Linked DNA regions of Homo sapiens. The protein of the gene in region 5 binds, or shares a complex with, the protein of the main gene of each other region. Each region holds a gene or a part of one and is shown on either strand. Other genes may lie near its edges. The genes, in order: NUP214, NUP107, NUP85, NUP205, RANBP2, NUP98 and NUP93.

Evidence for each region.
Region 1: RANBP2 (region 5) and NUP214 share a complex: the UniProt entries of both Homo sapiens proteins name them as parts of the nuclear pore complex.
Region 2: RANBP2 (region 5) and NUP107 share a complex: the UniProt entries of both Homo sapiens proteins name them as parts of the nuclear pore complex.
Region 3: RANBP2 (region 5) and NUP85 share a complex: the UniProt entries of both Homo sapiens proteins name them as parts of the nuclear pore complex.
Region 4: RANBP2 (region 5) and NUP205 share a complex: the UniProt entries of both Homo sapiens proteins name them as parts of the nuclear pore complex.
Region 6: RANBP2 (region 5) and NUP98 share a complex: the UniProt entries of both Homo sapiens proteins name them as parts of the nuclear pore complex.
Region 7: RANBP2 (region 5) and NUP93 share a complex: the UniProt entries of both Homo sapiens proteins name them as parts of the nuclear pore complex.

Annotation. Positions count from the first base shown.
Region 1 is NC_000009.12:131,142,586-131,146,085, forward strand, and holds part of NUP214 (nuclear pore complex protein Nup214), read left to right. Parts: intron 1-1,694; coding exon 1,695-2,169; intron 2,170-3,500. UniProt on the Homo sapiens protein: Part of the nuclear pore complex. Has a critical role in nucleocytoplasmic transport.
Region 2 is NC_000012.12:68,693,478-68,696,977, reverse strand, and holds part of NUP107 (nuclear pore complex protein Nup107), read right to left. Parts: intron 160-3,500; coding exon 56-159; intron 1-55. UniProt on the Homo sapiens protein: Plays a role in the nuclear pore complex (NPC) assembly and/or maintenance. Required for the assembly of peripheral proteins into the NPC. May anchor NUP62 to the NPC. Involved in nephrogenesis.
Region 3 is NC_000017.11:75,229,679-75,232,968, reverse strand, and holds part of NUP85 (nuclear pore complex protein Nup85), read right to left. Parts: intron 1,630-3,290; coding exon 1,546-1,629; intron 1,397-1,545; coding exon 1,331-1,396; intron 1,142-1,330; coding exon 990-1,141; intron 119-989; coding exon 1-118. UniProt on the Homo sapiens protein: Essential component of the nuclear pore complex (NPC) that seems to be required for NPC assembly and maintenance. As part of the NPC Nup107-160 subcomplex plays a role in RNA export and in tethering NUP96/Nup98 and NUP153 to the nucleus.
Region 4 is NC_000007.14:135,560,917-135,564,416, reverse strand, and holds part of NUP205 (nuclear pore complex protein Nup205), read right to left. Parts: intron 1-3,500. UniProt on the Homo sapiens protein: Plays a role in the nuclear pore complex (NPC) assembly and/or maintenance. May anchor NUP62 and other nucleoporins, but not NUP153 and TPR, to the NPC.
Region 5 is NC_000002.12:108,781,982-108,785,481, reverse strand, and holds part of RANBP2 (E3 SUMO-protein ligase RanBP2), read right to left. Parts: intron 3,355-3,500; coding exon 3,081-3,354; intron 2,955-3,080; coding exon 2,620-2,954; intron 1,887-2,619; coding exon 1,581-1,886; 3' UTR 1-1,580. UniProt on the Homo sapiens protein: E3 SUMO-protein ligase which facilitates SUMO1 and SUMO2 conjugation by UBE2I. Involved in transport factor (Ran-GTP, karyopherin)-mediated protein import via the F-G repeat-containing domain which acts as a docking site for substrates.
Region 6 is NC_000011.10:3,717,555-3,721,054, reverse strand, and holds part of NUP98 (nuclear pore complex protein Nup98-Nup96 isoform 1 precursor), read left to right. Parts: intron 1-229; coding exon 230-343; intron 344-1,504; coding exon 1,505-1,643; intron 1,644-3,500. UniProt on the Homo sapiens protein: Plays a role in the nuclear pore complex (NPC) assembly and/or maintenance. NUP98 and NUP96 are involved in the bidirectional transport across the NPC. May anchor NUP153 and TPR to the NPC.
Region 7 is NC_000016.10:56,834,629-56,838,128, reverse strand, and holds part of NUP93 (nuclear pore complex protein Nup93), read right to left. Parts: intron 3,396-3,500; coding exon 3,351-3,395; intron 1,529-3,350; coding exon 1,412-1,528; intron 522-1,411; coding exon 403-521; intron 1-402. UniProt on the Homo sapiens protein: Plays a role in the nuclear pore complex (NPC) assembly and/or maintenance. May anchor nucleoporins, but not NUP153 and TPR, to the NPC. During renal development, regulates podocyte migration and proliferation through SMAD4 signaling.

The DNA.
Region 1 (3,500 bases), on a different chromosome or scaffold from region 5:
CTTTTGATTTATTTAGGGTCTGGTATATATTTTTCATGTCAGTTTACCTAATATGCATGAAAGTGTTTTAACATCTATGTATGTCTTTACAGAAGTTAGTTGTAGCTGGTTCCATATCTATTGTATAAAGAAGTATTAACAGAATAGGTTTGCTTGCATTATTATACTTTCATCAATGTGACAGTTTACTTGGATTTTTGTTTTCAGAAAGTGGTATTTTCATACTTGTATCTAAGTATTACGTTGCATTAGACAAAGTGTCTTCCATGAAGATAAACTGCCATCTTAGCTAATTTGGAACAACCAAGTCCTATTAATATAAATAGAAAATATTGACACAAAGAATTCTTTTCTTATTTAGTTGGTTATTTAATTTAAAGATTAATATTTTTACCTTATGGAAAGTTTGGAAAATAGAAAAAAAAATTATTCATTTTTGAGACAGGGGTCTCACTCTGTTGTGCAGGCTGGAGTGTAGTGGCAGGATCTTGGCTCACTGCAGCCTCTGTCTCCCAAGTCCAAGCGATCCTCCCACCTCAGCCTCCCAAGTAGCTGGGACTACAGGCACAAGCCATCACACCTGGCTGATTTTTGTATTTTTTTTGTAGCAACAGGGTCTCACTTTGTTCCCCAGGCTGGTCTCAAACTCCTGGACTCAAAGGGTCCTCCTGCTTTGCCCTCCCAAAGCTCTGGGATTACAGGCATGAGCCACTGCGCCCAGCCTTCCATTGACTTTTTTTTTTCTTTTTAACCATTTGGATTGCATTAAATATCTTTTTCATTTTTTGCATTATGTTTGTAAGCTTTATTCTTAGAAGAGAAATTACTGGGTCTGTTTTTTACAGTTTTTTATACAATGCCAAAATGTTTTCTTAAAAAAAATACTAGTTACCTACCAGTGATAAAAAGTTTCAGGTTTGTTTTACCCATCCAAACATAAGGGGTTAGACATATTTAAATTCTTATAATTTAGAGGACAAATTAAAAATGTACCTTGTTTATATTTCTTTGATTAGAGAGATTGAATGTGTTTTCTTTATGTGAGTTAGTTTCCCTGTTTATTAGTCCTGAAATTTTAAAATCTCAATTTGTATGAGCTTTTTAAAAAATAGAAAACATCTTATTTGTCATTTGCTATGGATCTTTTTTTTTAGTTCATTACCATTTAGTTATTGTACCTGAGTAGCTATTTTTTACACAAATCTTAACCTTCTCCCTTTGCGATTGTTTTTTTTTTGGTCACTTCTAAATTTATCAAGGTGTTAGATTCTGAGACCTAACATATCTATCAATTTGCCTCCTTTGTTTTGAGATACCTGTATTTATGTGACTTTCTATGTGTATTTATCTGGAATTACTTTTAGTGAAATAAGGTGGAGGTCTGAATTAAAACTTTTTCCTGGTTGTTAATGAAATGTTGCAGTGACTGAACTGTTTTGTGTGCCATAGTAGCACTGAGAAGTCCATGAAGTCCAATTATTCTAATGTCTTTCCTTAGTTTTCCTTCAGTTTCATTTATCTCATGAGACCTGAAAACTCCAACATGAACTGTGTACCCATGTGTTCTTTTTGCTTCTTAAACTAGTAACATTTCTGGCTTTATTCTACCACAAATTCTTTTTCACTTGCTTTCTATTATGTGAACCTCCACTGTTACAGTGTTAACATTTTCCTTCCTTTTTTTGTCACTGCAGGAAGTACTCCCACTACCCCAACCTCCTCTCAAGCCCCACAGAAACTGGATGCTTCTGCAGCTGCAGCCCCTGCCTCTCTGCCACCTTCATCACCTGCTGCTCCCATTGCCACTTTTTCTTTGCTTCCTGCTGGTGGAGCCCCCACTGTGTTCTCCTTTGGTTCTTCATCTTTGAAGTCATCTGCTACGGTCACTGGGGAGCCCCCTTCATATTCCAGTGGCTCCGACAGCTCCAAAGCAGCCCCAGGCCCTGGCCCATCAACCTTCTCTTTTGTTCCCCCTTCTAAAGCCTCCCTAGCCCCCACCCCTGCAGCGTCTCCTGTGGCTCCATCAGCTGCTTCATTCTCCTTTGGATCATCTGGTTTTAAGCCTACCCTGGAAAGCACACCAGTGCCAAGTGTGTCTGCTCCAAATATAGCAATGAAGCCCTCCTTCCCACCCTCAACCTCTGCTGTCAAAGTCAACCTTAGTGAAAAGTAAGTCACTTCTAAAGTTTGATTCTTCTGTGAGTTGGGTAGAAATATTGGATGTTATTTACTAAAAGTAGAGTCACTCTGAGAGGAGTTAACTGAGTAGAATTTTTTTACCCAGAGTGATACTTGCAAATGGCAAAAATTCAACCAACATAAAATACTGGCATTTCATCAGTGAATAGAGTCCAGAAGGGTCTCTTAGCTAGCATTTTATTTTTTTGACTATGGGATTTATATTCAGGTATTTGTTTTGCTTTTTTACGTTACAAATGTAGGAAATATTCCTTATTTTAAAAAAAGAAGCAATCCAGAGTATGCATCCTGGAAGGGAAATGAATCCCTTGTAGTCTTTTTTCCTCCCTGTGTCTACCCTTAACTCTCTCTGAACTGCTGTCTACACAGCCACAAAGTCATCTTGTGACACTGTAAATTGTTAGGTGATTCTTCTGCTTGACAGTCCCTATGAAGCCCCGTGGCTGCTCACTGCTAATTCTTAGGTTGGTATCCAGTTTCCTCCAGATCTGGGTCGGGCAGCTCACTCATTTCTTATTTATTTACTTCTTTATCTTGTTCTTTTCTTCCCACTAGAATGTAAGCTTTTGGAGGGAAGCAATCCCTTATATCTTGTAACCCCTCCCAAGATAACCATGAGTTCCCAAGATAACCATCGAGTATAAGTACTACCAGCTTTTTCCCTACTTGCCTGTACTATCTGTTGTTGCTATGGTGGTGCTGCTGCCACCACAGTTACTGTTAATACTGAATTGGCACACATCCACTTCATGCTAAGGGTTGCATAGTGTTCCATTTTGTTGACTGCACCACAGTTTATCTGACCAGTCATCTAATGCTGGAGTTTAGATTGTCTACAGACTTTTGCTCTTTAGGTGGAACCGACTTTACATTTCCTTTAGGCCATAAGTATCCCAAAGACAGTTCCCTGCATTCCTCTTCCTTTTTCACTCCCCAGAGAAGGTGCTCACTCTCAAAACGAGTTCTCAGTAATTTCCTTGGTAAGAGAAAGTACTAACTCTCCTAAGCATAATTGTGTCCCACCTCCTGTTTAAAACTCAGCTGGAAACAATAGTATTTCATATCATGATAAACTTGGTATTTCATATTGTGATAAACTTAGTTTTGATATTTCCCCTGAATAATTAATTCCTAAATAAGCAGACGAAAAGATAAATGTTTCCTTGCAGCTTTCACCTTTTATAAGAAATAGCTAAACATTTTTGTTTCCTGAAGGCAAAAAGTATGTTATCTTTGTAAGTTAACATAAAAGATAATAAGTTATCTTTTGATGACATTGCTCATGCTAGTGTAAAAGAATC
Region 2 (3,500 bases), on a different chromosome or scaffold from region 5:
TTATGAAAACTAAAAATACTGAAGTTTGACTAACGACGGAGTGAAATTAGCTTACCTGACTACCACAGATGTTTTCATACTCTTCCACAAGATCAAAAACTGTACTCGAAGAGTGCTTCAGAAAAGACTGCAGGAAATCAGAAAACATACTCATGGATGCTAGAACACATCAAAAAAAAAAAAAGGAATAAAGAAAAGTTAAGTGACGTACTTCTAGGTAATTCCGTTTGTTTGAAAATGTATTTATTTGTTTATTTATTTTTTGAGATGGAGTTTCACTCTTGTTGTCCAGGGTGGAGTGCAATGGCACGGTCTCAGCTCACTGCAACCTCCACCTCCCAGGTTCAAGTGATCCTCCTGCCTCACCCTCCCAACTAGCTGGGATTACAGGCATGTACCACCATGCCCAGCTAATTTTTGTATTTTTAGTAGAGATGGGGTTTCACCATATTGGCCAGGCTGGTCTCAAACTCCTGACCTCAGGTGATCTGCTCGCCTCAGCCTCCCAAAGTGCTGGCATTACAGGCGTGAGCCACCGCACCCAGCCTGTTTGAAAATTTAAATGGCTACAAGTCTTTTATAAATTCACTGCTATATTAAAAAAAAAAAAATTGAGACAGAGTCTCACTCTGTCACCCAGGCTGGAGTGCAGTGGCGCAATCTCAGCTCACTGCAACCTCCACCTCCCAGGTTCAAGCGGTGCTCCTGCCTCAGCCTCTCAAGTAGCTGGGACTACAGGTGCGTGCCACCATGCCCAGCCAACTTGTTGTATTTTTAGTAGAGACGAGGTTTCACTGTGTTAGCCAGGATGGTCTTGATTTCCTGACCTCATGATCCGCCCACCTTGGCCTCCCAAAGTGTTGGGATTATAAGCGTGAGCCACCGCACCCAGCCTCAAAATTTTTTTTAATTGGCAAGATACACATAATATAAAATTTATCTTAATCATTTTTCTTTTTTTTTTTTTTAAGAGAGGGGGATCTTGCTCTGTCACCTAGGCTGGAGTACAGTGGTGCAATCATGGCTCACTATAGCCTCAAACTCCTAGGTTCAAGTGATCCTCCCACCTCAGCCTCCCCAGTAGCTGGGACTATAGGTATATACCAGCCACCATGCCCAGCTAATTTTTTATTAGTCTGTAGAGACAGGGTCTTGCTAACTCCTGTCTCAGCATCCCAAAGTGGTAGGATTAAAGGCATGAGCCACTATCCCTGGCTTAATCATTTTTAAGTGTATAGTTCAGTGTCAGTAAGTACATTCACATTGTTGTGCTACCATCACCACTATGTATCCACAGAACTATTTCATCTTGTAATACTGAAACTCTGTACTTAATAAACATTAACTCCCCACTCTCCACTTACCCCAGCCCCTGACAACTATCCATCTACTTTCTGTCCCTACATGTGTTGACTATTCTAAATATCTCATGTAAGTGGAACCATAGAGTATTGCCCTTTTGTGACTGGTTTATTTCACTTAGCATAATGTTCTCAAGGTTCATCCATGTTGTAGCATGTGTCAGAATGTCCTTCATATTTGGCTGAATAATATTCCACTGTATGTATAGATCACATTTTGTTTCCCCCATTCATCTATCAACAGGTACTTGGCTTGCTTCTACCTTTTGGCTACTATGAATCATGCTATGAACATGCATGTACAAATATTTCTTTGAGACTCTGCTTTCCAATCTTTTGGATATATACCCAGAGGCAGGTTTGCTGGATCATATGGTAATTCTATTTTTAATTTTTTGAGGAACTGCCATACTGTTTTCCATAGCAGCTGTACTATTTTACATTCCAACCAATAGTGCACAAGGATTTGAATTTCTCCACATTGTTGTCAATACTTGTTATTTTCTGGGTTTTTGTTCTTGTTGTTGGTTTGTTTGTTTTTCAGTAGCCACACTAACGGGTGTAAGGCAGTATCTTGTAACTCACTGTAGTTCTGATTTGGATTTTCCTAATGATTAGTGACATTTGAGTATATTTTCATGTGCTTACTGGTCATTTGTGAATCTTCTTTAGAACAGTGTCTATTCTATTTCTTTCTTTCTCTCTTTCTTTTTTGAGATGAAGTTTCGCTCTTGTTGCCCAGGATGGAGGTGCAATGGCATGATCTCAGCTCACCGCAACCTCTGCCTCCCGGGCTCAAGCGAGTCTCCTGCCTCAGTCTCCCGAGTAGCTGCGATTACAGGCATTCGCCACCATGCCCAGCTAATTTTGTATTTTTAGTAGGGAGAGGGTTTCTCCACATTGGTCAGGCTGGTCTCGAACTCCCAACCTCAGGTGATCCACCCGCGTCAGCCTCCCAAATTGCTGGGATTACAGGCATCAGCCACTGCGTCCAGCCTCTGTCTATTCTATTTCTTTGCTCATTTTTAAATTGGGTTGTTTTTTTGTTGTTGAGTTGTAGCAGTTTTTATACATTTTGGATATTAACCCCTAAGCAGATATATGATTTGCAAATATTTTCTCTCATTCTGTGGGTTGCCTTTTCACTTTGCTGATTGTATTCTTTCGTGCACAAAAGTTTAAAATTTTGATGTAGCCCAATTTATCTATTTTTTCTTTTGATACCTAAAGGTCTTTTAAGATCTCAAAGATATACTAGTTATTTTATAAACAATTACTTAAGAAATTGAGCCAGATTTAAAAATATCTGAATTATATTTTAAGCACACCATTACAAAGTAGTGGAGAAAGTTATAATACATACTAAATGGCATGTTCCACTCTGGGAAAATACAGGCACTTGGCCTAAGTAGAAAGTATTTTGAGTCACTTAATACGAGTACCTGTTTTTGACAGATACTACAAGAAAGTAGTAGTTACCAAAGTGTTAAGAGCAGGGCTCTGGAGCTAAACTGCTTAGTTTCAAATCCTGGTACCACTACTTCCTAGCCAGGTGGTTTGAGGTAAGTTACTTAACCACTTTGAGCAGTAGTTTCCTTTTCTCTAAAATGGGAATAATTATTGTAACTATTTAATGGACCACCATAAGGATTACATGAGTTAATGCTTGTACAGTGGTCATAACACTATCTGAAAAAAAATAACAGCATTACGGTCCAGGAGAAAACAAAACACATCAACAATGTTAGATTAAGAACTAAACCTAAAGAAAGAGATGCTCTTTCAACAGCACAAATAAGAAAAAAATTACAATATGAGACTTGTCTAATAACGTAACAGGCTGCTATTTACATTAAAAGATAAAATGGCAAGATGCTGCTCAGACTGAGAACCAAGGTGAGGTTCTCAACCTTCTAGTGATACTGTATCAAATACCATTGCCATAACCACAACTAATTAGCTTAAGGAAAAATATATTATAGACAGAAGACCAGATGAAGACACAGGAGGAAGACAGCCATCTGTAAGCCAAGAGAAGAGGCTTCAGAGAAAACCAACCCTGCCAAGACCTTTAACTCAGACATCTAGGCTCCAGAATTGTGAGAAAATAAATTTATGTTGTTGCCTATAATCCCAGCA
Region 3 (3,290 bases), on a different chromosome or scaffold from region 5:
CTGTCTGACACGAGCGTGGCAAAGGCGGCATCCTTAGCACGGATGCTCCAAGAGAGGGCAGAACCCAGGCGATTGTTGCGGACGGCTTTCATGGCTAAGATCTTACAAATGCTGCGAACTTTGCAGGGGAAAAGAAAAGGTAAACGGCTTTCACTCCACAAATCACTCCATTCCTGAGCCCTGTGGGGACCGGAGTGGCCTCACAGCCTCACTCCACCGCAGAGCCACTCTTTGGGCTCTAAATGCAGCTGGATCGGCAGAGCTGGAAACTCGGCTGATTAACAGTGTCTGGGATCTGCTAAGAGTGTAAGTGCCCATCACGGCAAGACTGGCTCTATGAGTGTGTGTGGCTTCAAGGGGAGCAAAACGTTGCTCCCTACATGTCAGCTCTTCTATTTTTTTTCTCCCTACGTGTTTCTCCCTACGTGTCAGCTCTTCTATTACCTCTCCAGATGCCTCAAATCACATCTTCCTGTGGATCGTGAATACCATATGCTTTCAGAAATGGTCGTGAACATGCAACTGCCTCTCTGCAGGGTAATAACTCATGTTTACATTACTCAACAGTGAGGGGAGAAATGAAGGGGCAGACTTGGTCATCCTCATTCCACTCTCTCTGCTTTTCTGGAGCCACCTCCAGCACTGCTTCCCCATTGAGCCAGGCTGAGCTAGCAATAGCAACCCACCTGGACAGGGAAACAGCGCCAACCCCAGCCCTGACCTCGTGGAATCAAGTGTGTGAGAAAAGGGGCGGCTCAGGCCTTTCCAGATGGCGTGTAGATTTTGTCTGGGTTCCAGTGGATCCCTAGCTTTCCTGTCCCTCCCAAGTAATTATCCCATCTCTTAGTTTACCTCTTGGCGTCCACAGCCCCACGTCTCCAGTGTGGCTCGTGAGGAGGAGGATGGCTGGGGTAGGCATAAAGTGTGACCTCAGGATCCCCTGACTCCTGCGTCCCACAGACAGTAGGCTGGGAGCAGGGCCAGCTCACCTTGTTCAGTCATCTGCCGCTGCTCACAGATCCGCAGCACCTTCAGGGCTTTCTGCTCGGTGTTCAGAGGTATCCGCTCAATGTGCAGCTCCAGGGAGACTCGGCCCAGCTCGGGGCAGTAATCAAAGTAATCGACCCCCAGCTGCCACAGGCTGCAAAGGTTCGAGGAGGACAGACATGAGGTGCTGCCTCATGGCTCCGAGGACTGGCACCTACAGCTCCCTTTCACTGACCCTTCCGAAGCCTTCAAGGAGCCAACTGGGAGAGAACAGTCCAAGCTCCAATGGCACCCGCATGCTGAAGAGCACCCGCATAGCCCACACCCATGGGGTCCTTCCTACCTGGGATGAGCAAACAGTCCCGAGGCGTACTCCAGCAGGAGGAACTCTCTCATGTTGGAACCGAAACTGGAATAAAACATAACAAAAGACCAAGACTCCTGGCCTGCCCTGTTCAGGGCCCCCTTAGCCCAACCTCCCTTTCAGGCATTCAGTTCACACCACCCTCGGGGGCCTGGTGGTAAGAAGAGGAGGATCGGTGCCTCCCGGCCACTTACTAGAGGTTGTGTGACTGGAGGAGCTTGCAGTGGTCCAGCAGGTCTGTCAGGTGGGCCACAAACCACCAGTTGCTCAGGGCGATGCTGCAGATTCAGACACCAAGGCAAGAAGGAAAATCAGGGCACAGGCCGCGTCCCACAAGAGTGGGGGTGAGCAAGAAACCCCACATGTCCTGTCCCTCAAAGAGATGGGGCCGGGCGTGATGATAGCTCATGCCCGTGATCCCAGTACTTTGGGAGGCCAAGGCAGGCAGATCACCTGAGTCCAGGAATTTAAGACCAGCCTGGGCAACATGGCAAAACCCCATCTCTACAAATACAAAAATTAGCCAGGCATGGTGGCACACACCTGTAATCCCAGCTACTCGAGAAGCTGGGGTGGGAGTATTGCTTGAGCCTGGGAAGCAGAGGCTGCAATCGGCCGAGATCACGCCACCGCACTCCAACTTGGGTGAGAGAGCACAACCATATCTCAAAAAAAAAAAAATCGCTCAGAAAGTAGTTGAGGTGGAGTCTTGCTCTGTCACCCAGACGGGAGTGCACTGGTGAGATCTCGACTCACTGCAACCTCTGCCTCCCAGGTTCAAGCAATTCTCATGCCTCAGCCTCTTCAGTAGCTGAGATTACAGGCATGCGCTACCACACCCAGCTAGAAAGTAGCTTTTGAATGTTCTCACCACACGCACACCAAAAGGGTCACTATGTGAGGTGACAGATGTCACTAGCTTAATTTCACAATGTATACATCTATCAAAACATGTTGTTGGCCGGGCGCGGTAGCTCACACCTGTAATCCCAGCACTTTGGGAGGCCGAGGTGGGAGGATCATGAGGTCAGGAAATCAAGACCATCTTCGCTAACACGGTGAAACCCCATCTCTACAAAAAGTACAAAAAATTAGCCGGATGTTGTGGCGGACACCTGTAGTCCCAGCTACTCTGGAGGCTGAGGCAGGAGAATGGCGTGAACCTAGGAGGCGGGGCTTGCAGTGAGACGAGATCGCGCCATTGTACTCCGGCCTGGGCGACAAAGTGAGACTCCATCTCAAAAAAAAAAAAAAACAAAAAACATGTTGTACACCTTGGCCGGGTGCAGTGGCTCATTCCTGTAATCCCAACACTGAAAGGCCGAGGCGGGTGGATCACTTGAGCTCAGGAGTTCAAGACCAGCCTGGCCAAAATGGCAAAACCCCATCTCCACCAAAAATACAAAAGTTAGCTGGGCGTGGTGGCGTGTGCCTGTGGTCCCAGCTACTCGGAAGGCTGAGGCAGAAGATCGCTTGAGCCCAGGAGGCAGAGGCTGCAGTGAGCTGAGATCGTGCCACTGCACTCCAGCCTGAGTGACAGGGCAAGACTCTGTCTCCAAAAAAAAAAAAAAAATTTTGTACACCTTAAATACATACTACTTTGTTAATCACACCTCAATAAAGCTGGGGAAAAAAATGGGAGGGAGTGGGCTGGGCCAGGGGAAAGGACACCTCAGCTTCCCAAAACAGCTGTTGCTACCCAGATTTCTAGCTGATGGTTATGTCGAAACCATTGGAGAAGCCAGTGAAAAGGCTATAGGGGACCCAGGCTAAGGGAGCCAAAGCCTTAGCCTGCACGAAAGCCACCAACAACTGGAAGGAAGGGCTGAGACAGTGCCCGGTGTCTTCCCAAAGGATCCAGCAGCCTCCAAGGCTGGAAGGCAGCAAGCACTGAGAGCAGAGAACTAACAACACAACTCAAGTGACGGAGACCAGACAT
Region 4 (3,500 bases), on a different chromosome or scaffold from region 5:
AAATTAGCTGGGCATGGTGGCTAACACCTGTAATCCCAGTTACTTGGGAGGCCGGGGCAGGAGAATTGCTTGAACCCAGGAGGCAGAGGTTGCAGTCACCTGAGATCATGCCATTGCACTCCAGCCTGGGTGACAGGGCAAGACTCCGTCTCAAAAAAAAAAAAAAAAAAATAGCTGGGCATGGTGGCTTGTGCCTATAGTCTCAGCTACTCATGAGGCTGAAGTGGGAGGATCACCTGAGTCTCAGAGGGTAGAGGCTGTAGTATGCCATGACTGAGCCACTGCACTCCAGCGTGGGCAACAGAGTGAAACCTCGTCTCAAAGAAGAAAAAGAAAAAAAAAACACCAAAGGTAGCCGCAACAAAGAGTTATCTTCAATCTGTCTTGAGTTTGACCAATTTCAGTAAACACCTTTTTTTTGTTTGTTTTTTGTGACAGGGTCTTGCTGTCACCCAGGCTGGAGTGCAGTGAGGCAATCACAGCTCATTACAGCCTCAAACTCCTGGGCTCAAGCAACCTCCTGCCTCAGCTTCTCTAGTAGCTAGGATTACAGGCGCACGCGCACCACCAGACCTGGCTAATTTTTGTATTTTTTGTAGAACTGGGATGTTGCTATGTTGCCCAGGCTTGCCTTGAACTCCTGGCCTCAAGTGATCCTCCCTCCTCAGCCTCCTAAAGTGCTAGGATTACAGTAAATATCTTTTTTACTGATTACAAATGAAGGGACACTATAAATTTTTCAAAATTACTAAATATGTATTTTTACCATGTAGTTTAGTCAGTTGAGAAATACATTTATTTTCCTTAATGTTTAGGGATACCTCCAGCAAATCACATTTACTCACTCATTCACCATGTGTGAGGTATTGGTAAGATTATACTGCAGTGAGGAAAAACATTAATCATAATCATACATAAATGTAAAATCTGGCCGGGCACAGTGGCTCACGCCTGTAATCCCACCACTTTGAGAGGCCAAGGCGGGCCACATCACGAGGTCAGGAGATCAAGACCGTCCTGGCCAACACAGCGAAACCCCGTCTCTACCAAAAATACAAAAAATTAGCCAGGCGTGATGGCATGCGCCTGTAGTCCCAGCTGCTAGGGAGGCTGAGGCAGGAGAATCGCTTGAACCCAGGAGGCGGAGGCTGCAGTGAGCCGAGATCACGCCACTGCACTCCAGCCTGGGCTACAGAGTAAGACTCCATCTCAAAAAATAAAAAAATAAATAAAAATAAAATAAAATCCAACTGTGGTCAGGATATGAAGGATATGAAGGAGAGGTAGCCAGGGCAAGAGATCACATAATAGGGGACTCTGACCTAGCCAGAGGAAAGAATTATCCATGAGGAAGTGATAACTAGGCTGAAATCTGAAGAACAAAAGTGATAGTTAACTGACAGGTGGGAGGTGAAGACATGCATTCCAGGGAGAGGACAACCTGTGGGTTTCCATGGCAAGAGGGAATGCGGCATGTCAAAGAACTCAAAAGGCCAAGAGAGCTGCAGTACAGAAAACGGGTTTGGCAAGATCATCACACAGGGCTCACTTGCCCACGTTAAAGAATTTTGATGACCGAGTGTGGTGGCTCAGGCCTGTAATCCCAGCACTTTGGGATACCGAGGCGGGCAGATACGAGGTCAGGAGATCAAGACCATCCTGGCCAACACGGTGAAACCCTGCTCTACTAAAAATACAAAAATTAGCTGGGTGTGGTGGCGCACGCCTGTAGTCCCAGCTACTCAGGAGGCTGAGGCAAGAGAATCGCTTGAACTTGGGAGGCAGAGGTTTCAGTGAGCCAAGATCGCGCCACTGCACTCCAGCCTGGCAACAGAGCCAGACTCTGTCTCAAAAAAAAAAAAAAAAAAAAAGGATTTTGGTCTTTACTCTAAAAGATCAAGCCAAATGAAGATTTAAAACATGGGGACTTTCTGCTCATGCCTATAACCCCAGCACTTTGGGAGGCCGAGGCAGGTGAATCGTTTGAGGTCAGAAATTCGAGGCACCCCTGGCCAACGTGGTGAAACCCCATCTCTACTAAAATTACAAAAATTAGCCAGGTGTGGTGGTGGGCGCCTGTAATCCCAGCTACTTAGGGAGGCTAAGGCAGGAGAATCTCTTGAACCTGGGAGGCAGAGGTTGTAGTGAGCTGAGATCACACCACCGCACTCCAGTCTGGGCGACAGAATGAGCCCCTGTCTCAAAATAAAAAATAATTTTTTAAAAAGGAACTTTCTGAACTACAAGAAACAGAAGTTAACCCTATTGAGAGCTGTTTACAAGGATGGAAGAGACCAGAATGGGTGAAGGAATAGGAGGTATGAAAAGGGAGTCAGTAGGCTGGGCATAGCAGTTCAGGCCTGTAATCCCAGCTACTAGGCTGAGGCAGGAGAATCATTTAAACTTGGGAGGTGGAGACTGCAGTGAGCCGAGACTGCACCACTGCACTCCAGCCTGGGCAGAGTGAGGGAGGGAGGGAAGGAAGGAAGGAAGGAAGGAGGGAAGGAAGGAAGGAACAAAGGAAGGAAGGAGATGGAGTCCATGAATACTAACAAATCTTTTGAAAGGCTTGACTAGGAAGAGGACAGTAAGTGGAGTGACGCATGAGATCATCAGTGGAGAGAAAGGGAAGAGCAAGAGAGAGAAGTGAATATACAAGACAAAAAAAGGGGTAACAGGTGAAGAACACAATGGGTGGGATTTACATTAGATAGGAAGACAGAGGAAAAGTGATTCAAAAGAATGCAGACACACCTAGGTTTGTAGGTTTGAGAGTGAATAAAGGGAGTTCATGTATGTTGGCTCCTATTTTCTCTGTGACTAGAAGTCTGAGGGTTTAGTTAGTTGCAGGTTAAAGATTTGAAGAGTGTAGAAAGGTCTGAAGTAGTCACTGCTGTGAATGGACGAGGTGACCAGACTATCACAGAAGGACTGCCAAGCAGTGTTAATAGTTGCTTATTCACAAGTCTGTGAGTGTACTCAGCCAGGTTGATACAGGTCACAAGACTAGTTAAGTTATACAGCTGAAATACAAGCATAGGTTTTTTTGTTTGTTTTTTGTTTGTTTGTTTTTAAGACAGAGTCTCGCTCTGTTGCCTAGGCTGGAGTGCAGTGGTATGATCTCGGCTCACTGCAACCTCCTCCTCCTGGGTTCAAGCAATTCTCCTGCCTCAGCCTCCCGAGTAGCTGGGATTACAGACACCTGCCATCATGCCAGGCTAATTTTTGTATTTTTGTAGAGACAGGGTTTCACCATGTTGGCCAGGCTGGTCTCGAACTCCTGACTTCAGGTGATCTGCCCACTTCAGCCTCCCAAAGTGCTGGGATTACAGGCATAAGCCACCACACCTGGCCAACCATAGGTCTTAGAACTCTACAATCTCTGTATTTTTTCCTTACAACTCCAAGATGTTTGATTTTTTAAAACTGTAATTTAAAGGAAGCACATAACATAGAATGCAATCTCAACAAATTTTAAGTGTACAGTTCAGCAGTGTTCA
Region 5 (3,500 bases):
AAGCACTTGCATTAACTTAAGAATTTATTCTAAAATCATGACGAAGGCATCAACTGTCTCAGCTGAAAAGTTACAACACACTTTACATCAGTTTATATTACATAGATTTCCAAATAAGCCAATTTGAAATATTTAGTGTAAACATATGTAATCCATGGTTCAAGACTGAACTGATACATTTGGAGTAGGTTTATTTCAAGTATCTGGCTTTGTGGCCGAGTGGAATGGTGATGGTATACCATCACTCATTACTCGCACAACATCCCTCCCCTCTTTTGACTGGTGGTTGAACAGTTACTTGCTTTAGGATACCCAATTTCCAAATCCCCATGTAACAGGGAATAAACCTGTCTTTCCTCACTAAATAAAATGAGGTAATTTCACCCGAAAGAACACAGATGGGTGGAAGACAGTCAATATTCATAATTGCAATATACAAAATTTTGTGTTCTACCTGGATTCTTTGTAGTTCCATATTGAGTAGGCCAATAAGAACATCCTCTTTTCTTTAGCAATTTGCCTAACATTTGATACAAGCCATTTCCAAATACGTTTTTGGTGTGTATCAAACTTGAGAAACTAGGAGCTCTGGAAATTATGCAGCAGTTTGAATTTACTGCCTTTAAATTGTCTTCCTTACTTTAGAATGAACCCGAAGCGTAAGTAATGAATTTTTTGGATGTCAGTGGCTCTTAGGAATTGTCATTTTATTTCTGCTACAAAATTTACCAGAAAAAGGTACTGCAACAATCTTGTATAAAGCAAATCTTTAACGAAAGAACATGGTATAGACTTTCTAAAAATATTCATACTTTATCACAATAACTACAAGGAAAAATTCAATTTCTATCATCAGAACCAAGCTGCAGTTTCTGAGGTAGTAGAGACAGATGACAGAAAAGTTTGAAACAAAACCCCTAAAGGAAATAGTCAACTTGTTTAAAATGTAAAAATTAATCGAATATCTATGAAAGGGCACAGGAAGCTAGATATTTTAAGGAAGGAAGGTACGCTACTTACAAAGTTAACTTGTAACCACACAGGAGGTGTAAAGATTCTAGAGAAGAGCACTTTGGTTAACTCTATACGTTCTGTGGCTCTACCCATTCATAAACGAGTCTCTATGCATAAATGAGTACACCAATAGTTAAGATTACCAAATATATTTCAAACCTAAAATTAAATTATCCAAGTTGTGGTCCCTTTATTCAAATGGTAAGTATATCCATGCAGGAAGTCCAAATATCTTAAAAGGAATTAAAATTAAATTGCATATATCATATTCCTTCAATAGTTTGAGGTCTATTGCTTTTAACAAGATTAGTATTATTCCATTTTAATACGTCAGGAGTACATAAACACAAGTACACCTGAAATACACCAGTGTTTAAACTTTTATTTCACACCATGCAAGGTCAATTATAACACATTAAAAAGTGACAACAGCTATAAGCTGCAATTTTACATTTGTAAATCGGAAACGTCCATTTTCAAAAGCTGAACATAACTATCAAATTGTAATAGCTAAGCTTCAATCCAACTGCTTATACAGATGAAATTTTCTATGAACAACAATGATTTTATATCTGTCCACATTCTGTGATAGTTATTCTTCGACAAACAGACCCTTTGGGAGAACCAAATGATTCAATCTTTTTCACAGTATCCATGCCATCCTTAACAAACCCAAATACTACATGCTTAAAGTCCAAATGTTCTGCTTTCTTCAGTGTTATAACAAATTGAGAATTATTGGTATTCTGGCCTTGATTGGCCATGGATAGTAAACCAGGACCAGTATGTTTCACATCAAAATTTTCATCTTCAAATTTGTCTCCATAAATGGACTGTCCGCCTGTTCCATCATGTTTGGTGATATCTCCTCCCTGAAAAAAAGATTTATAATAAAAAAGTTAAAAATTTTTTTCAATTAATAGGAATCCTGAGTAAAATATTAAAATACACACAGAACTCATCACTACATGTTAAATCCTAAAGCCCAGCTTTCCTGAGTATAGTTTGAAAACTAAGAAATTCATATTGTTGGAAAGAAGATGAAAAATGAAAAGGTTTTTCCCATCCCTTAGTTTCTACTAGATCTCAAGTACTGAAAATTTGATTTTTTTTTTTTTTTTTTTTTTTTTTTTTAATGACAGGCTGTCTCACTCTGTCGCCCAGGATGGAGTGCAGTGGTGCAAACCTAGCTCACTGCAGCCTTGGCCTCCTGGATGCTCCCACCTCAGCTTCCTTGTAGCTGGGATCACAGACGCACACCACCACACCTGGCTAATTTTTGTATTTTTTTGTCCAGACGAGATTTTTGCCATGTTACCCAGGCTGGTCTCAAATTCCGGGGCTCAAGCAATCTGCCTGCCTTGGCCTCCTAAAGTGCTGGAATTACAGGTATGAGTCATTGTGCCCAGCCTCAATTATTTTAGGTTGAAAGTTTTAGGCAGGAGCAGGGAATGGGTAGTGATGCCATGTGATTCCATGTGTGGAAAACCTAAAGAAATCTTTAACAAAACTACAGGATGAGGTCAAGGAAAAACACTCAAATTTCCCATTAGTGTGGTGCACTCTTCAAGACCTCAATTGTGGTATGTACTTAATAATACCTACTTGGCAAACAAAATCTGGAATTACTCTGTGAAAAATGGAATTCTTGAAACCAAAGCCTTTCTCTCCAGTGCATAGTGCTCTGAAGTTCTCAGCAGTCCGAGGAACAATGTTTGAAAATAATTCCATAGTTATCCGCCCTAGAGGTTCACCGTCCGCACAAACATCAAAAAACACCACAGGATTGGTCTCCTTTGATAATTCTGCTGCCAGTGATACATGTCCTTTCTGGAGTTTCATTAAATTCTGCTGACATTCTTCAAATGTTTTCTTGAAACAATCAGCTACTTCTTTAGTTTTAAATCTCACTGCAAGCTGTTCTACTTTTGCTTCTCCATCTGGCAGGGAGGGAAAGGGGAAGCAGTGACCTTAGTATTAAAATAACTGTTATAAGTTGTTTTGTTTGTTATAGATTTTAGAAAAGTCCAAAAAATGAAAAGTAGCATTTGAATGTAAAAACTCACCAGCATAATCTGAGGCAGTCCAAACTAAAGCATTATTTGAAACATTTAAGGGCTTTAATTCCATTGTTTTAGTAATAACGTGGTTTGCACACACTTTAAAAACCTGGTCTCTTCTCATTAGGATCCGGTAATAATTCTTCATTGTATGCCAAAGAATCTTTATATCTCCAACACCGCGCTCCTTCCACTGACTGACATCCCGATCCCATCTATAAAGTTTGGCTCTCTCTTTAAACAAAATTTCTTCATCTTCTTCTCCAGATTTTACTTCTACCTATAATAGGAGATGAAATTCTCTATAAGCTGCTGCTTATAATAAATTCCATGACAAATTTCAAAGATCCAAATTCTTTTAAGGCATTTTCTTTGTGATGACAAAGAGAATTTGTTAATGTGATAACTGGTTATATATCTTAGGGC
Region 6 (3,500 bases), on a different chromosome or scaffold from region 5:
TGTATCATATGTATGTTCTTCAAACCTATTTGACCATGAAGCTTTTCACACACACACACACACACACACACACACACACTCACACACCCCTTCTCCTAGGAATCATGTTTGGTAGAAAAGTAGTTTGGAAAATTCTTCATTCTGATATATTTTCTCTTTATATGATGATTTAGTTGCTGATTATTTCAGGTTATTTTTTTTTCTGTTTTTTTTTTTTTTTTTGTCACAGGTATTATTCTCACTAAGGTTGGTTACTATACTATTCCATCTATGGATGACCTTGCTAAAATTACCAATGAAAAAGGAGAGTGCATTGTCTCTGATTTCACTATTGGTCGGAAAGGTAAGTGTGAGTTTAGCACTTAGTGATTAAGCCAGAGAGTTGCACCTTATTTTTGTAATTAGGGGAAGCTTTTGATAGCTGAATCTTCATTTTCCTACATTTGGGCCCACCTTGGCCTGAATCTTAAATACTTTGATTGATAAGTAACAAAACAAGAAAGACTGGAACCATGTAAATTTTTTTATTTTTATTTATTTTATTTTTTCTGTTGAGATGGGGTCTTGCTACATTGCCTGGCAGATCTCAACTCCTGGGGTCAAGCATTTCTCCTGCCTCAGCCTCCTGAGAAGCACAGAACCATATAATATTCTTTGGGCTTAGGTATACCTGTTTGGTGCTAGTAACTATTTGGGTCATTTTAATTTTCTGTAATTAAAGAAAATACTGGAAATACCAAGAACTTCTGAGAAAATTGAATAATAGGCAAGAGATGTATAACACTTAGCATGAACTTCATGTTATTATTACTGATAATTTTCTTGTGGGAAATGCCACTGTGCTATATTGTATTAAAAAGAGCTCAGGCATTTTAACCCATATGCCAGGCCAAGTGCGAAGGTTTGTTTATATAGCGTCATTATAGATAAATGGGAAGAGATTTAAGAAGGTTGTTTTGAGGCTAATGGGAGTTTTATAAAAATGCAGATGTTAGGCCTGTCGCAGTGACTCACACCTGTAATTCTAGCGCTTTGGGAGGCTGAGGTGAGAGGATCACTTGAGCTCAGGAGTTCTAGACCAGCCTGGGCAACATAGTGAGACCTCACCTTTACCAAAAGTAAAGAAAATGAGCCAGGCCTGATGATATGTGCTTGTAGTCTCAGCTACTTGGGAGGGTGAGGTGGGAGGATTGTTTCAGTTTAGGAGGTTCAGGCTGCAGTGAGACAGGACCACTGCACTTCAGTCTGGTCAACAGAACAAGACCTTGCCAAAAAAAAAAAGAAAAGAAAAGAAAAGAAAAATGCAGATTTTAAATCAGATAACAGTGTAATTGAAGTTACTCTCCCTAAGTCCCCATTCTTACCAGTCTAGGAATTGCTGAATTATTTAAAATACTAATACTTAAAACTGCTTTCTCCTTGTGATTGTTTAATCACTATAGTTGTAAAGTAGGTATTTGCCTTCATACAGAATGAATTTTTAACTATTTGCTCTGATTTATAGGTTATGGTTCAATCTATTTTGAAGGAGATGTGAATTTGACAAATCTAAATTTGGATGATATTGTGCATATCCGGAGGAAAGAAGTAGTTGTCTACTTAGATGATAACCAAAAACCACCTGTGGGTGAAGGGCTAAATAGGTAAGAGTTTATGTACATACAGAAAATTATCAGCTAAATCACAATTTTTTTTTCTGTAAACATAAATGTGTTTAGATGTATGCTTCTGTAGCTTGCTTTCCTTACTATAGAGTACATTTATTGTCTCTACTTTGATTTAAAAGTATAAATGGCAAAGAAATGCTATACTGTGATTTTGAACTCCTTTTCCCTGATTTTATTTTTTAATTCATTTTTTTACATTCCTTGGATTCGATTCTATTCTATTTTATTTCATTTCATTTCATTTTACTATTATTATTTTTTTTTTTTGAGATGGAGTTTTGCTCTTGTTGCCCAGGCTGGAGCGCAGTGGAATGATGTCAGTTCACTGCAACCTCCGACTCCCGGGTTCAAGCGATTCTCCTGCCTCAGCCTCCCAAGTAGCTGGGATTGTAGGCGCCCGCCACCATGCCTGGCTAATTTTTGTATTTTTAGTAGAGACAGAGTTTCACCATGTTGGCCAGGCTGGTCTTGAGCTCCTGATTTCAAGTGATCCTCCCACCTCAGCCTCCCAAAGTGCTGGGATTACAGGTGTGAGCCACGCTGCCCAGCCTCCCTGATTTTATTGGGTCCAACTGCTAATTTCAAAAACTCTTTTTAATAGTATTTTGCTTTATTCCTGTTTCTGCTGTGGCTATACTTAACTCTCTATTTTAGTGTGAGATCCTAGCTTCTAATATCTTAGTCAAGTGAAAGGGCTGTAGTGAAAATTATTTATCTTCATAACCTACCAACCCTGAATCAGGAAGAAATAGAAAATCTGAGCAGATCAATCGATCCTTTCCTTTCCTTTCCCCTTCCGCTTCTTTTCTTTTCCCTTTCTCTTCTTTCTTTCTTTTCTTTCTTTCTTCTTTTGAGACAGAGTTTCACTCCTTTGCCCAAGCTGGAGTGCAGTGGTATAGTCTCAGCTTACTGCAACCTCTGCCCCCTGGGTTCAAGCGATTCTCCTGCCTCAGCCTCCAGAGTAGCTGGGATTATAGGTGCCCGCCACCATGCTCAGCTAATTTTTGTATTTTTAGTAGAGACAGGGTTTTGCCATGTTGACCAGGCTGGTCTTGAACTCCTGACCTCAGGTGATCTGCCCACTTCGCCCTCCCAAAGTGCTGGGATTACAAGCATGAGCCACTGTGCCGGGCCAATAATTAGTAAAGAGATTGACTCAGTAATCACAAACTTGTCAAAAAAGAAAAACCTAGAATCAGATGGCCTCATTGGTGAATTCTACTAAGCGTTTAAAGAAATAACACCAGTCCTACTCAGACTCTTCCAAAAAATTGAAGAGAAGGGAATACTTTCACACTCATTCTATGAGGCAAGCGTTACCTTATTCAGTAACCAAAGACACTGCAAGGAAAGAAAACTACAGACCACTTGATGAGTATATTGATGAAAAAGTCATCAACAGAGCCCTAGGAAGCAGAATTTAACAGCGTATTGAAAGGATTACACATCATGGCCAAAAGATTTATTCTGGAATGCATGGATGGCTTAACATACAAAAGTCAGTGAAACATACCACTTTAACAAGATAAAGGAATATACCACATCATCATCATCATCATAATACAGAAAAAGTATTTACCAAAATCCAACACTCTTTCATAATAAAGGCACTCAAATACAGAAGGCTTTTCCTGTGAGACAAGGCAACACAAGGATGCCTGCTTTTGCCACTTTTCCCAAATATACTACTGCAAGTCCTGGTCAGAGCAATTAGGCAAGAAAAATAAAAGTTAATACAGTTTTGAAAAGTAGTAAAATTATCTCTGTTCTTTGATGACATCTTGTGTAGAAATCCCTAAAGATGCCACACAAAAAAACTTACTAGTTATAAAC
Region 7 (3,500 bases), on a different chromosome or scaffold from region 5:
GTAGTCTGAAACACTGGCCACGACACCTCTAAGAATCTCCCCCATCCAACCATCACTAGCTTTGGTCTTGAATGCCTTTGAGAGGGCTGATGAAAGTATACAACAGTATTTAGGCGAGCATAATGCTTAAAATTAAGCTTTATGTGCATGATTAAAATACTGAGATGCCCTTTCATACCCATTTCTTTGGCAAAAATGTTAAGTTTGATAGTACCAAGTACTAGTTCTGATGCGGGGACAAAGGAACTCACACAGTGCTGGTGGCATGGTGAGTTAGTAGAACCACTTTGGAAAGCTGTCTGCTGTTACCTAGTAAAGCTGAACATGCATTTGGGTGGGCATAGGTGGCCTGGCACTGGCAGTGGCACCCTCAGGGTCCCATGGAGCCAGCTCCTGGCTTACCGTTCGGCAATGGAGAGTGCCATGTTCTTCAGCCTCTCCTTGTTGGATTGCGGGGCACTGATCTGGGGGACGACAGGGCTCAGCAGTTTGTTCATCAGCTCCAGTACCTTGTCAGCATTCTGCTCAAGTTTTTAAAATTAAGGAAGCAATCAATAAAGTAATCAATAAAAGGAACAACTATATAATGCCCCCTACCCACCAAAGAGAACTTTCTGGGGTGACATTTTTTACCGCCTCCCAAGTTCAAGCAATTCTCGTGCCTCAGCCTCCTGAGCAGCTGGGATTACAGGCATGCACCACTATGCCTGACTAATTTTTATATTTTTAGTAGAGACGGGGTTTTGCCATGTTGGCCAGGCTAGTCTCGAACTCCTGGCCTCAAGTGATGCGCCTGCCTTGGCCTCCCAAAGTGCTGGGATTACAGGCGTGAGCCCCTGCACTTGGCCTATAGCTGTTTTTTTGTCTACTTTTCTCAGTTGATAAAGGAGAGAATGTAATCTTGTTTAGGTCATAGAATCCTTAGCAGTTATCATATGTTCTTAGTCATCATTTGTTCTTCGGTAGAAACATGTATTCTAGTCCTCTCAAAACGCCCAGCTAAGGTCTTATTTTCTTTCACTCCTTCCTGCACACTGATGTGGTCTTATTTTCTAACACCACTGTTCCCCAGTGTGTCTGTGGTTGCCAGGGTCAGCATAATGTAATTTTCAACAGTGGCTTCACCATCGAAATGTGATGGATGCTAATTCTGCTGCCAAGTGAGACAACAGTTCAATGCCTGCAGGACATCCTTTCAATATGTTGTTTGGTCAGAAAAATCTTATGGGCAGAAATAATGCTGTAAAATGGGAATTCTGTCCTGACTGGACCATTAACTGTCTAAGCACTAGAGCAAATGCCTCTGCAGGGAGGGTGCTACAACAATGACACTGTCCAAGTGGCTGCACATTTAATGCCAAAAGGCCAGCAGACCTGTGAAGTGCAAAAGAAGGAAGTGGGCACACTTTACCTTGGCAAGGTCATACAGCTTTGCTGCCTCTTCAAACAGTCCTTTATTTTCTGCCACAGAAGCAACTTTGTTGATAATAGGCTTTGTGTCACTAGTAAACTTATCTATGACTCCAGGCTGACAAGACAAATTATGGAGGGGGAGGAAGAGAGAGACGGGTGCACAGAGCTATTATTTTAAACACAGAGAAGCAATTAGGATCCAAAAAATACTTCAAGTGGAATTGCTTGCCCTGGGCAACGCATATATTTCATCAGCCAGACTCTGGCTTTCTTAAAGATATAAAGTCCTATTAAAACTATAAAAGAGACCAAGGAAACTACACATGAAAGGGCAGACTTACTAGAAGCACAGAGGAGTCAGCAATAAGACATCTGTGCTTTCTAATTTTCCAAAATGACCCAGAGAGTCAGTGAAATCAATGATTTTAAATTTGCTGATAAGTAGGAACTAGAGAGAAAAATCAGGAGGCTTAGAAAAAATATCTGAAAAATTTTGGATTTGCTTTCTAAGACAGATGGCAAAAGGAACTCAGTGCTGAAAAAACACACAGCAAGTGGTAACAGGACATTTCTTTTTTTTTTTTTTTGAGACAGAGTCTTGCTCTGTCTCCCAGGCTGGAGTGCAGTGGCGCAATCTCGGCTCACTGCAAGCTCTGCCTCCCAGGTTCACACCATTCTCCTGCCTCAGCCTCCCGAGCACCTGGGACTACAGGTACCCACCACCACGCCTGGCTAATTTTTTTGTATTTTTAATAGAGACAGGGTTTCACCGTGTTAGCCAGGATGGTCTCGATCTCCTGACCTCATGATCCACCCGCCTCGGCCTCCCAAAGTGCTGGGATTACAGGCGTGAGCCACCGCGCCCGGCTGGTAACAGGACATTTCTTAAAAAAAAATCACCATCACCACTCAACAGCAACTAAATGGTCAGGAGAGCATGAGAGAGGCCTTAGGCACCCTGGGAGAATGAAGGCAAGTGCATAACATCTCTGCCTGGCCATTCTGCTTCTCCACTAGCGCTGGACTCTCAGGGCTAGACCAGGTCAAGGTGGCTGGACCAGGTTGAGGTGACTTGCCCTGCCACTTGGGAGGTAGCAGAGGATAAGGTCTTATCTATGTTTCTAGCTCTGTCAACTCACATACAGTAGGAGCCTCCTGGCCCCAGTGCAGCCTGTTAAAGAAGAAACTATGCAAAGCACTCAGCACAATGCCTGTTGATTGTCACTGCCCAATAAGCAAGGCCACTGTCATCAGCACTGTCACTTGCCTTTCTTCTGAGGTAGATGGTGTGAGCAGTGTGAGCTCATCTACAGATTGCTGGGTCCAAATCACTCATTTTTACAAACGAGAAAACTCAGCCCCTGAGGGACAAGTGACTTTCCAAGGGCCACAGGGAGATTCAGGGTCATGACTGGTCTCTGACAACAGGATCTCTGACCCTCCTGCCATGACAACCAATGGGCATAGTGAGTCCTGAAATCCCTCAAGCTTCCAGAAGTATTTCCAGGGTCACTGTGGAGTTCAAAGCCCTTGGAAACTGCATTTTGAAGGAGGTCAAGTGCATGTCTAACTTTCCCATCTTGGGAGAATGGGTGCAGTAATCAATTTCTTTTCCTTGCATGTTTTCTGAGCCAAGAATGGCAGAAATGTATAATAGCATTCTCAGCTCAAAAAATGACAGGCATGAACAAATGAATATTCTGAACATAATAAAAAAGCTATGTAATCACAAATTAACATATTTTAAGGAGATATAAGTGTGTGTAAAACCAAGGTCATCATTTGGGCCCATAATTTTCATTCCATTTTTTAAATTAAGCAACTCTGTTCAGATTTGCATCTTTAGTACCTTGAATCTTAAAATCTAAGTGTATTTTTTGATATTTATAAATCCCCAATGGCTAACGAACATTTCTCTAAGGATGCATTTAACTCACCTTTCTACTTCCGTCATTCTCTAGTTTCCCAAGAATCATATCGAACTGTGGAAGGAAAAAAGTTTACTCAAATTATTGGACAAAGATATAAACATATTCCATAAGTCTTCAGAGAAAAAAGAGGGGAATCAAATGGGATGAATGGGATAA